Homo sapiens: one gene and its partner. The protein of the gene in region 1 interacts with the protein of each later gene in a biochemical or structural test. Each region holds a gene or a part of one and is shown on either strand. Other genes may lie near its edges. The genes, in order: CDC42BPA and PPM1A.

The links.
Region 2: of the proteins of CDC42BPA (region 1) and PPM1A, one has a biochemical effect on the other in vitro, tested with the Homo sapiens proteins (one study listed by BioGRID).

The regions. Positions count from the first base shown.
Region 1 is NC_000001.11:227,308,379-227,315,675, forward strand, and holds part of CDC42BPA (serine/threonine-protein kinase MRCK alpha), read right to left. Parts: intron 1-7,297. UniProt on the Homo sapiens protein: Serine/threonine-protein kinase which is an important downstream effector of CDC42 and plays a role in the regulation of cytoskeleton reorganization and cell migration. Regulates actin cytoskeletal reorganization via phosphorylation of PPP1R12C and MYL9/MLC2.
Region 2 is NC_000014.9:60,294,177-60,299,840, forward strand, and holds the end of PPM1A (protein phosphatase 1A), read left to right. Parts: 3' UTR 1-4,911; downstream 4,912-5,664. UniProt on the Homo sapiens protein: Enzyme with a broad specificity. Negatively regulates TGF-beta signaling through dephosphorylating SMAD2 and SMAD3, resulting in their dissociation from SMAD4, nuclear export of the SMADs and termination of the TGF-beta-mediated signaling.

The DNA of each region.
Region 1 (7,297 bases):
GTGCACCTGTAGTCCCAGCTCCTTGGGAGGCTGAGGCAGAAGAATTGCCTGACCTCGGGAGGTAGAGGCTGCAGTGAGCTAAGATCACGCCACTGCACTCCAGCCTGGGCAACACAGTGAGACTGTATCTCAAAAAAAAAAAAAAAAAAACAGAATGGGAAGCAAGCTGACAAAATACAACCATAAATCACCAGAAAAGGAAGAATCCTAAACCAACTTTTAACTTTTTAGAAAAATAAACTATTAGTCTTATGTCCATTTTTCATAAAGAGACATAGGGAGGTTAAATAACTAAATCACCCAGTTAATAATCAAAGCAGTCAGTCTTAATCCAAAACCCCTTGCTCTTTTCCAGTATATTGGTTTAGAACAGAAACATTTCAGGTTAGGTGTTCTACTTGTAGATATTCACCATGGAAACTCTAAGGAAACTGGATTAAGTGTTATCACTATGAATAGACCAAATTAAACAGAAGGTGTTTTTGTCTTTGATTAAGCCTACAGTGACGTTTAAGCAATCTGAAATAAAACTGAAAGTTAACACATGATTGCACATGACTGAAATAATTCACAATCTTTTCAAAAGATTGTTTTCATCCATATAAGTAGTACTTTGCAGTATAATTAGATCAGGAGTGGGAAGAATGGCACTGGTGAGGAAGAGTTAAAGAGAAAAATAAATCTAAATCAGAAAAAAGAAAAAAGGCCAGGTGCGGCTGCTCACATCTGTAATCCCAGCACTTTGGGGAGGCCAAGGTCAGAGAATTGCTTGAGGCTAGGAGTTCAAGACCAGCGTGGACAACATAGTGAGACCCTATCTCTACCAAAAAAAAAAAAAAAAAAATAAGCAAGAAAACTAATTTTATTCCCCTATATGCTGTCTGTCTTTAAACAATGAAACTAGATTGTCCTCTATGATTATTATCTGGCCTCCCAAAAACTCTGAACAAAAGTTAATAGTAACCACAGCTTTAATTGTTCACACAATGCCAAAATAGCACCAATTATGTTTTCTCCTTAATAAAAGTATATATTTTCTAGTTTCCTTAACAGTATATATAAATAGTTGCTGGCACTAGAAACACAGCGCTTCATGGATGTAATAAATAGTAGTAAAGTTCCCACACTAGTCCAAAAGTCTGAAACCAATGGCCTAGCCAAAATGTGTTACACTGCAAAAAACAATACTTAACACTGTAACAGGATTTTAAAACTATGAGTCCATGATATTTTCCTCTTAAAAATCACAAAGTAATGAATGTAATCTCTTCAGATAGACAATAGTTTTGCAACATCTACAGTAATGAAAGCTGTAAAAAATAAAGTGACAATTTCTGTATTTAATGTAAATGCCTACACATAAAGAAAAGTAAGCTTAATTAGAGCAGGAAAAGGTCATAATTAAGAGATCTCTCAGTAATTTCAAGGACTTTAGGGGTTGACAGCAGTGGTTCATTATGATGTCAAATTTCACTCTACTTTTTAGGGTGCTTTTCTTAGATGTAATTTTACCAACAGCATCACTCATGTTATTTCACCATGATTAAATTTATCTTTCAGTGCACATGACTTTCACACAGAAAATGAAGTTCACAGCCACTAAGTAAAATATAACCTATTCAGATTTGGATTCTCTCTCCAATCCACACGATATCCCAAATTTCTCTCAAAATTTCTTTCTAACCCTGCTACTCAGGAAGTTACAAGGAAAACCATGACCTTATACTGGAAGAACATTTCCCAAAGCGTATTCTGTGAAACACTGGTTGCCAGCCATCCTCCAGACGCTCTGAAAAAAAGCCTATTCCATAGTCAGATAAACTTCATAAATTCTAGGATAATCTGCTGTATTTTTAACATTAAATGTTGTCTAAAATCTTTTCCCAAACTGATTTATTCATATAAACCTTTCCCCTTGCTCAAGCATCTATTAAATATCCCATGGATTTCCAGAACACACTTTGAAACTAGGGAGGGAGGTTAGAGTGAAGAGGCCCTAATCCCAAAAGAGAAGCAAACAGTTCCATGAGGAAGAGTAAAGGCAAACAGTGGGATTGGAAAGGGGGAGCCAGGTCTTTGTGCCCCGTTAACATGAAAGCTAAAGTGCTGCTCTCATACAGTGATAGATAAAGAAACACTAGCCAATAGAAGATTAGCCATTCCCTACGTACTGATTAGAAAAAGAGATGGCAGTCATAGGAAGGAAGTGTGTAGAAGCTAGCTAGAAAGAATAATCCTGGAGTTCTACTCACCATTAATGGAGAAGAAAAGGAAGTCCCCCAGATTTGGAAAGGAGTTTTTTTTTTTGTTTTTTGTTTTTTTTTTTGAGACAGAGTCTTGCTCTGTCGCCCAGACTGGAGTGCAGTGGCGCGATCTCGGCTCACTGCAAGCTCTGACTCCTGGGTTCACGCCATTCTCCCACCTCAGCCTCCTGAGTAGCTGGGACTACAGGCACCCGTCACCGCGCCCGGCTAATTTTTTTTTTTGAATTTTTAGTAGAGACGCGGTTTCACCATGTTAGCCAGGATGGTCTCAATCTCCTGACCTCGTGATCCGCCCACCTCGGCCTCCCAAAGTGCTGGGATTACAGGCGTAAACCACCGCACCCGGCCAAGGAGTTTTTATATACAACAAAAAACTTGTGTCTGGGATAATCCATACTTACAGTGTGGGTAATTCAAAAACAAAAATCACACGAAGTGCAGATGATCACACTTGCAATTCCAACACTTTGGAAGCCCAAGGCAGGCGGATCACTTGAGGGCAGGAGTTTGAGACCAGTCAGGACAACATAATGAGACCCCCCATCTCCACACACACAAAAATTTTTTAATTAGCTGGGCATGGTGGCACATGCTTGTAGCTCCAGCTACTTGGTAAGCTGAGACAGGAGGATCCTGAGCCCAGGAGGTTGAGGCTGTAGTGAGCCATGATGGTCTCTCATAACAATTATTATGCAAAGACTTCTTGACTCATCAAGACAGGGCAAAAGGAGCTAAGCAATTCTTGGTCCTCGATACCTAAAACTGGCAGTTTCCTGAGCAACAAATGATGAGAAAAAATCTGATAGAACTAGCAAATCCTCACCTACATCTACCCTAGAGTTCAGCTGAAGTGATGAGAAGCTAAAACCAAGAAACTACTACCTTTGTTTATAGGTCATATGGTTATCACTCAAACTCAAAAACGTATATACCTCTGACAATCAATCAAAGTCAATGCCCATTAGCCCAAACTCAGAAACGGAAAAAAACAAAGGAAGAGACAATAAACCATTGAAAGAAATACAAGAGTGAAATTAACTCCCCTGCCCATTAAGTTCTTTTAAATTAAAAATACCCAATCATAAAAAAAAAAAATACCCTATCATTCAACAAGTCAGACTGAAGTAGCAACTCAGGAACACAGTATTCATTCTCATTCTCTGTCTCCCTCTCCCTACTCATTCTCTTTTTCTCCCTCCCCCATGTCTCCTCTTCCCATCTATTTCCAAGTCTGTATCTTGCCCATACCTTACACTCTTTCCCTTCACTAGGTTCTTGAGTAAGTCCCTAATCTATCGTGTGTCCTTTTTGAAAAAATGAACTGTCTATATTTTCACTGTTTAACAGTCAACATAGCATAGCTGCACCTACACTGAAGTATTTCAAACTATTTTTATCTCAACCTATAGTAAGAAATATGGGAATAAGGACTACAGGAAAACACAATGTTTTGCACAACAATACTTATTCCTTCTATATTTGATGTACTTTATATTTTCTATTCTAGTCTTTAATTTTTTTTAAATGCTGGTTAGACTTAGTAATTGGTTTTAAAACCTATCACAACCAGCAGGAGAAAAACAATGAGCTACATACGTAACATACTGTCAATAAATGTACCAAATGAGAAAAAGGTCAGAGAATAAATTTTTGACTGCCATAAAAGAGTGGTACAATAAAATATTTATTTGAGCTAAATTATTTTATCCTAAAATAGCCTGAGCTTACTGTGTAATAGTATTCAAGTCCTAGGAATTATGGGACATTTCATAAAATTTCCAACATACTGCACTATTTGTTTTTATATACTGCTATACTAAGGTATGCCTTACATTTCCATATAAAATAAATATATGTCTAAAATTCCTAAAGTGTTAATCCTGACATCCTGTTTTCACTCATGAAGCAATACATTCCTTTTTTAAAAAAGCTGGGTGTGGTGGTGCATGCCTGTAATCCCAGCTCTTTAAGAGGCTGAGGTGGGAGGATCTCTTGAGCCCAGGAGTTCAAGACCAGCCTAGGTAACACAGTAAGACCCTTGACATGGTTTGGATTTGTGCCGTCACCCAAATCTCATGTCAAACTGTAATCCCAGTGTTGGAGGAGGGACCTGGCGGGAGGTGACTGGATCATGGGGGCAGACTTCCCCTTTGTGTTGTGATAGTGAGTGAGTTCTCACAAGATCTGGTTGTTTAAAAGCGTGTAGCATCTCCCCCTTCTCTCTCTTCCTCCCACTCCAGCCATGCAGGACGGGGTCGGCTTCTCCTTTGCCTTTTACCATGATTGCAAGTTTCCTGAGGCCTCCCCTGCATGCCTCCTTGTAGCCTGCGGAACTGTGAGCCAATCAAACCTCTTTTCTCTATAAATTACTCAGTCTTAGGTAGTTCTTTATAGCAATGCGAGAACAGACTAACAAAACCCTGTCTCTAAAATAAAGCAATACATAAAATAAAAAGAGTAATGTTCCTAAAAACAATTATAATACAACCCTGTCTCTAAAATAAATCAATACATAATATAAAAGGGTGATGTTCCTAAAAACAAAAAAATTACTAATGAACATCAAGTATTTCAAAGACTTTAGGGGTTAACAGCACTAGTTCATTATACCTAAGTTCACTCTACTTTATAGGGAATTTTTCCTAGATGTAATTTTATCAACAGCATCACTCCTATGCTATTCCATCATGAATGCCAGTAACCAGTATCATCTGGCAACTACCTCTAAGTGTAATTTCTCTTAAAAAGAGAGAGACAAACAGAAATGTTATAATAATAGCCATTACATCTATTGAACACACTTCTACCATGTGCCAGCATTGTACTAGATAAAATAATTGTAATTACTCATTATCATTCCTAGAATAGAATATTAGGTGGCTAGTATAAAGGAAACAAGTACCCAACCAATATTGCTGATTATTCTAGTTGAGAACTTAAATAAAATAAATGTAATCATCTGTATTAAGTGAACATTTTGATAATTCGGACTGATTAATTAATAAATTCTACTCAGGAAAAGCTAACAATGAGGAACAGCATATGTGAAGAACAAAAGTGTCCTAGAAAAGATACATATCCATCAACACCTCACTTAATTAACACTCGTGTCATAAAAAAAAAGTGAACAGCTTTAAAACTATACTAATAAAAAGAAAAGCTTAAAGCATAGTACCTGCTGATATGCTCTAGGTACAAATTTATTAAACAGACTATTTTCTATGTATATACAAAATCTGAATAAGCTATAAAATTAGTTATTTAGTGATAATTTCTGTATGTTACAAAGTCCAAAATTCAAAAAGCATCAAAATAGTTATCCATGTACAGACAGCCTTGCATATTTATTTTGTATTAATATTATCTTACATTTATTAAGTAAATTGGTAAATAATTCCCCAAAATTCCAATTTCCCATTTCAAAGTAGGGGGTGGCCGATTTAACGAATGATATACTAATTCAGTCATTACTAGCAAATTAGTTTACAATGTGGAAGTTATTTTTACTTCTACAACTCCACTGTAATTTATTCTAGAGTTATGCTGACATCGACTATTACTGTATACACAAACATACAAACCATAATCATTTCAACAACTTAAAACTAAGCAGACAAAAAACATAGTCTTTCAAATACTATTTACTATAAATGAAAAATAATACATCTTATTAAATTTAAATGTGATCTATAGTCTTAAGGCACTTTTATTCCCTTGCTCTAGTGATCATTGGCTTAATCCTCTCTTTCTCTTTCCACTTATTTCCTCCCTCAAGCCATCAGCACCAAAAGCAAGAAAGGCTGTCAAAGAAAAACAACATATCTGACTTTGAATTGTCAGTTTTCTTATTGTTTTGATACTGCTATGAACAAAACATTAACTGTACCAATATAAAAATAAAATGGACTAAAACTAGGAATAAAATGAAATTGATAGAAATGAAGCTGAATACAGCCGGTAAGAATCTTGGCTGACTGTACTTTAAGAGTAATCTATCATCAGCATAAAGATAAGTAGCATCTAGCTGACACTTTCATTAATATAAATAACGAACACAAATATGTAACAACTTGTGTTATTAATACTGCGTTCCTGTTGCAAATAGTCTTTTAAAGATTTAAATAAAAGACAATATTTTTTCAATTATTAAAAATTAAACTTAAAATTACACCATTTAAGGCAAATCTAAATTACCAAATTTAACCCCAACAACAATCCCTGTAAATTTCCACCAGAGTCCCAAAAAATAATGTTTAGAACACTGAACTGAGGTCAATTCACAATTTGGAAATATTCTTAGTCTTAACTGATTTTCACATATTGTTAAGTAATTAAAATAAAATAGGACATTTCCCCAAAATGCAGTTATCAATTCATATGAAGAACATCTGATCTATTTCAATTCTTAAATAGACTGGCACTCTTAACCTAAATTCTCAAATAACTTAAAGACAGCAAATACCACTACTCACTACGCAACTCCTGACAGCCTTTTCCATTCTTAACTTTCTTTTTACTCTTTATCCAGACTTCCATACTAATAAAAATAATACTCAGCCAAATACTTATTTGATATTTGGCTTATATAAAAATATACATAAATGAGGTGTTCTTATACATATATAAGAAACAACATCCAAGAAAACATATTTAATGGAAAATATATATAAATTATTCTGATAATACAGCGAAATATCTCATAACATAAAACTACTTACCTAAACTCTAATAATCAGAAGGCAATGGAGGATACAGTTTTCTCTTTATCATAAATCATTTAAAATTATATTTACTACTGGTACATAGAGTTCTCCCATAGCTTCGCAGATAGGAAAGAATACTAAATGACAAAAATCACAGACTAGAGTGTCATTAAGGAACCATAACTTAAGAACTCAAGTTCCAACTCTAAAAGTACCAAAACCCTTTAAGTCTTAAAAAAAAAAATTAACACTACAGAATTTCTCAATTTGTGAAACATGGGATGTAAAACTACATATGCTTTACAAAATACTTTATTCAACAAATAAAAG
Region 2 (5,664 bases), on another chromosome or scaffold:
GAGTAGTGGGGAAAGTAATGTGAAATGTCTCAGATTTAAGTAGTTAAATACCAGCAAAATCTTTTCATTATCCCTCTTATTTTGTGAGGTGATTAAATGTAACTTAATTGTATTTAATTTATATCTTATTCCAGCATGAATGAGGAAAAACTGAAGTACTATTTATATTTAGAAATTCATATCAGTTGAAATTACAGAACCAATTCCATACTTACAATAAATACTTAATGTCTAAATCTGTGGTAGAGTGCGAAGTATGATAATGTTCTAAGTTATGGCTTTGCAAGCATCTAAATGTGCATTTAATGAATACCAGTGCTTCTAGTATAGACTAATTACCAGACATACTGGTACTGAAAGCTAAATCCCTATTATAACAAACCAGTTCCTTAATATTTTAAGTAGACTGACAACTTTAGTTCCAGAAATTGCAAAACTTTGAACTGGACTGTGTAATCTTTTGAGATGCAAAACTTAAGTCACAAGTAGAGTATGTGATGGAAAGCTGTATTTCAAACCATAACAGCATATTTAGAGCCTTTTTTTTTTGAGTCTTTAAACAAGAGAAAATTAAAATATTCCTGTCAAAATTATTAGTATTGAAATTAGGCTTGGACACGAGAGAGAACCGTATTTGAGTGATGTGAGAAGACTAAATCTTTTCCACATGAGTCAGCACTGCCATACTAATAATTTTTTTACTATAAAAATACAGGAAGGAAGTATACATTATAACAGCAGACTGTGTGTGTTCCTGATTCCTGGAGGTAATAGTGGGGGGAAACCAACCATACTTTTTAAAGGCACTTTTGCACCTCTATTGTGCACTTCATTCTTGTACCACTTAAATTCTTCACCCCCATCCCCTTTTTTTGTGCTAATTAGCATCTCAGGGCAATGCCTCAAAAATGTTTGATGTGTTCTGTTCTTTGGAGGGAAAAAGTTCTTATGTGATGATAATATAGTACTCAAAATATACTTTTATCATTTAAATGTCTTATTTGCTGCTATGAATAGGAAATAACATTTTGTATAGCAGGCTCTGTTTTACCCTAACATTAAAAAATTTCACTGATCTTTCTTTCATTAACAGGGTAGAATCTCCTAATTTCCACTTTCTTGGGAATATACTTTTATAGACAATAGAAGCAGTTCTCAATATTAGCATATACTTTAAAAAATCAAAGTGATAACTTAATTCAGCTTTGGAAGTATCTCAAACATATTTTTACTTTATAGTGCATTAACTTGCTTCTAGAGTACTTAATGCAACTGCTCTAGCCACTTAATTTTTTATACTAATCTCAACATTAAGAAATTTGGATTAAGTAATAAATTAGTTATGTAATTCAAGTAATCTGAATTACAGCAGTACTTTTAGTGATCATTCATAGGACTATATATTAACCCAGCTAATAACTCAGTTTTTTTACAAAATGTTTCGAGTATTATTGGTAAAACACTGTTCTAGGCTAAGCACATTGGGACTGTAAAGAAATGAGTAGATCCTTGGCTTCAAGTTTACATCTGGACAATTTATAATCTAGTGTATGTTAGTATTATAACTGGATCACTCATCAAAAAATATATATATATATCTATTGCCCACCTGCTATCTACCAGGTACTTAGCTGATCAAGGCAGGCCCCTGCCCTAAAGACCTTGTTTATACTTCCTTTACTCACCTGAAAACTGTTCTCCAGTTTATTTTCTTCTCTCTAAAGTTAAAGAGTAATTCAGAAGAAAATTTTGCTTAGCATAAGAATAAAATTGGACTGAAGAGGCTTAAGCCCATTCAGTATCCTTGATTGCATTTATCCAACGGCCTTTATTCTTCCTGCTGACAGCAGTAACTCAGAGGAATAGGTAGTAGATTTCTGAAAATTATCCAGCCATGGAAATGTAGGTGGGGTTTGAGTTTAAGGCATTTAAAAATGTAAATATCTCTAGCTAAATTTATCTTAAGTAGAACTCTGTGTTTTTGTAACACACTGCCAGTGTTAATATCAAATTTTAGCCAAATTATTACTATGTGTTTTAATATTTTAAAATAATTTCACTGCCCATCTTTACTGGACAAACTCATTTGGAGTTCAACTTGTGATTTCTGAAAGAACTGATGAAATTGGGTACTGCTTTTTTTCTCCATTTTTCGTTTTGTTTTAATTTTGAATTTCATGGTATATACTTTTAGTTCAAACTCAGCTGTTTGTACAGTATTGTATTAGGATTTGGTATTAGAAAAGATGTGTAAATATCTTAGTATATAATTGTTTCTCATTTGAGGTTTTTCTTCTAAGGGACCTTAAAGAGTTTTATATACTTTTGCTCACAGAAACTGCTGGTGAGATTACCATTTTTTGAGTATCTAGTCTTCTAGTTTTTCTTTTAGGCATTAGGAAGCCTTCTTTAGAGTTCAAAATTTTAGAAGCCTAATTTGCTCTTACTTCCTTCAATTATGTGCCATGTGTTTTGGTTTGTATATGTTTTAAATTGTATATTTCCTTGGAATATGCTTGAAATATTTAAGAATACATTTTCAAAATGTATAATACTGTATTGTTTTGTTGATCAGAATAATAAGTCTCAGTTAAATGTTTGTTATTACTGATAGTCAAAATGCTCAATAGAAATGATGAGAGGCATTGGTTCCAATTCATTGTCAAATGAACGTTTTCTAATTTTGTTCACAGATTCTTTCCCTTTCGATTGTTCTGTATGTTAAGATAGTGGCTTCTGCTCTCACTGTTTTCCTATTTATATTACTAGCAGGTAGGAGTGCTAATTAGAAAAACTTAGATGGTATTGAAATTACAGTTGACAACTTATATTTTTATGAGATGGAGAAAAAAGATTAAGTTGATATAACAACAAAGTGGACTTTTTTTCTTCCTTATCCTGCACGAAATATTGCCCTTGTTTCCTCTACTTTCCTCTTGGTGTTTTCTCTTTTTTTCAAACAGAAACAGGCCAATTCCATTTTCTTGAGCAAGAAAGCTTAGTGTGTTACTTCATCAAGGCCAGCTAATACTGTGTTAAACCGGGCTGAAAATGAGAAAACTTGGGAGATGGAGGAATGGGGAAATGGCAGTGGGATAGGTAGGGAAGGATTACTCTTAATTGTTTTAAAAGCCATAGGAAAGTCTTCCTTGTACGTGGCTGTAAATTTATAAGAACTATTGTGTCACATAAACCAACAAGAATGAACCTTTGCTGCTTCAGATAATTTGATTTTTCCAGCAAGGAAATTAATAAGTTACTGATTCTTCAGCATAGAAACAACTGAGAAGAATTAATGCAATGTTTCTTCACTAGAAAACCCAACCCTTCATTTCTTTTCATTGCTCCAAAACCCAGTTTTCAACTAATGGTTTTCTCATTAAACTAAATGTTTAGAAAAGTTGTTTAGAGTTTTTCTTTTTCTTTTACATAGTCCTCCTGATCCAGTATAAGACTATTTAGTAACGTGCATTTGTATGGTACTATCTAAAGTAAGTTAGATTGATGTAAGAGATCGGGTAGCTGCGGAACAAAATTAGTTATATCCTAATTAGGTACAGTGAATGACACAAAATCATTTTAGCAATGCTTCTTAACCTTTTGGGGTCACAGGCGTTTTGAGACTGATGAATCCTAGGGACTTATTTACCCAGGAAAATGCGTATATAACATACATATCTCCCTAAAGTTTACAATATTGTAGTGGTTCATGGGCCCCCTGGTTAAGAGCCCATTCTAAAGTACAATAGGGCATCATCCCTTTTCCTGCAAAGCCCAAAAGTATATTTCTAGGGCATGAAAATAACTTGAGTCTATTTTAAGGAATTGTTTCACTCTAGAGGTAGATAGGGGACCTGGCTAGAATCTGACATTAAAATATACTTTTTAAAAAATATTATATTTGGGGTGGGGAAAGTGATTAAAAGGTGAAAAAAAAACATAGTATTCAGAAGTTTTGGAGGTTAATGTCTTTCTCTAAGATTTGCCACTTTAGAAATTCAACAGAAAAGAGGTAAAACAGAAATGGAATGTATCTGGAACATTTTTGGCCTCCATAGTGCAGATATACTATATTAACAAGTAATACATTTATTTACCTGTCAGATCTCCAGGTTTTAAGATTTTGAGCTTTCTAGTATTAGGATTCATTAAATGTTCAATTCATTTCATATTCTAAGGAATTAGGTTATTTACTTACTAATTCAGGATGTTAAAATAACATCCAAGTCGGACAACCACCACCAATGCACACAGTTAATGAGATTTCTAAAATATAATAAGTACAATGTAACAAACGTATAGAATTTTGCATTTGTTGCCAAAATTAGATGTTTAATGACAGCTTATTTAATTCCCATTTGTGGGACTTCTGGAACATAGAAACCATTATCTTACCTGGTTATCCCTTGACTAAATAGCATATCTGCAGGAAAATATCTTGTTTGTAGTGATATGCCCCAATAGTGATTGATTTCACTCTTGAAATGAGTTATATCACTTAATTTGTATAAATGTTATGAGTGGAGAGACATGTACATGTTAAAAGCATGTTGCATTATATATTCATTTTTTAAACTCTATAAATGTTAAGAATAATATAATTGCAGAAATATTTTTCTTAAATACAATGTGTAACAAAATTCTCCGTAGCAACTCACCCACTTTGCAGTTTATGTGATCCACACTTTTAAAGAAATTCCATAAATGTATATTTTGTATTATGTATTATTTCCTGGTCCAAAGAAAATATGTGAATTCAGTTCTAACTTTAAGAATGTACTGTTTGTTTTCAAGTTCATTGAAAAATTGCATTCAGCCTGCGAATGGTTGCAGATTGTATGTTAGATGAAAAGTAGAAATAATTTCTAGTTTGGAAAACTGGTGCCACTAAATAAACAGGCAATTACATAATGTGTGTGTATTTATGATTGTTTAATATTGCAAGCAGCATTTTTATTCCAAGAAACGTGGAGAATTTGAAATTAGCTGTTGGAAGACCTTAAAAGAATTGTTTTTTTCAGCTGAGAAATAAATCTGATAGGATTTGAACTAGATTTGTTCCTTCCTAATTTTAGGAAGTTTACTGAAAGCCAAGAAGTTTGAGTTGATGGTTATTGTCATGAAACATTCCAGAAATAAAGAAGCCAGAGTAGTTTCTCTTTGGTAAGAACATTCCCATTTGTCTGTCTTCTAGTAGATGATTACTCCCTTGAAGAGTTGAAATTGGGAATTGGGAGTGGTCTGGGAAAGGACTTCCTCACCTGGTATCTGTGGTATAGTGCCTGCTTCAAAATGGCACTTAAATGTGTGTGTTTCTAGGATGCAGAAAGGAGGTGTTTATTTCCTCTGCCAATTCTGATCATTGGCTATATTATATCCTGTGTTCATTCATGTCTGAAAGTGACTTAAACAGGTTTAATTGATTCTAGTCATGGCTTCCATAATTAGAGAATTTTTAGAGTTGAACTGTTAATAAAAGTGAAATTCTGTGAGCCGCAAGAGCTCATTTTGTTTATTGTAAAATGTGTAATAAAACAGTAATGAAGCTTCATAACCAAAGGTAAAATATCTTAGAACTGAGTAAGGTAAAGTAAGGCAAATAAGGTTTTATTTTATTTATATGTAAGTGGAACCTCTTCACTCATCAAATTGTATCATGCAGTT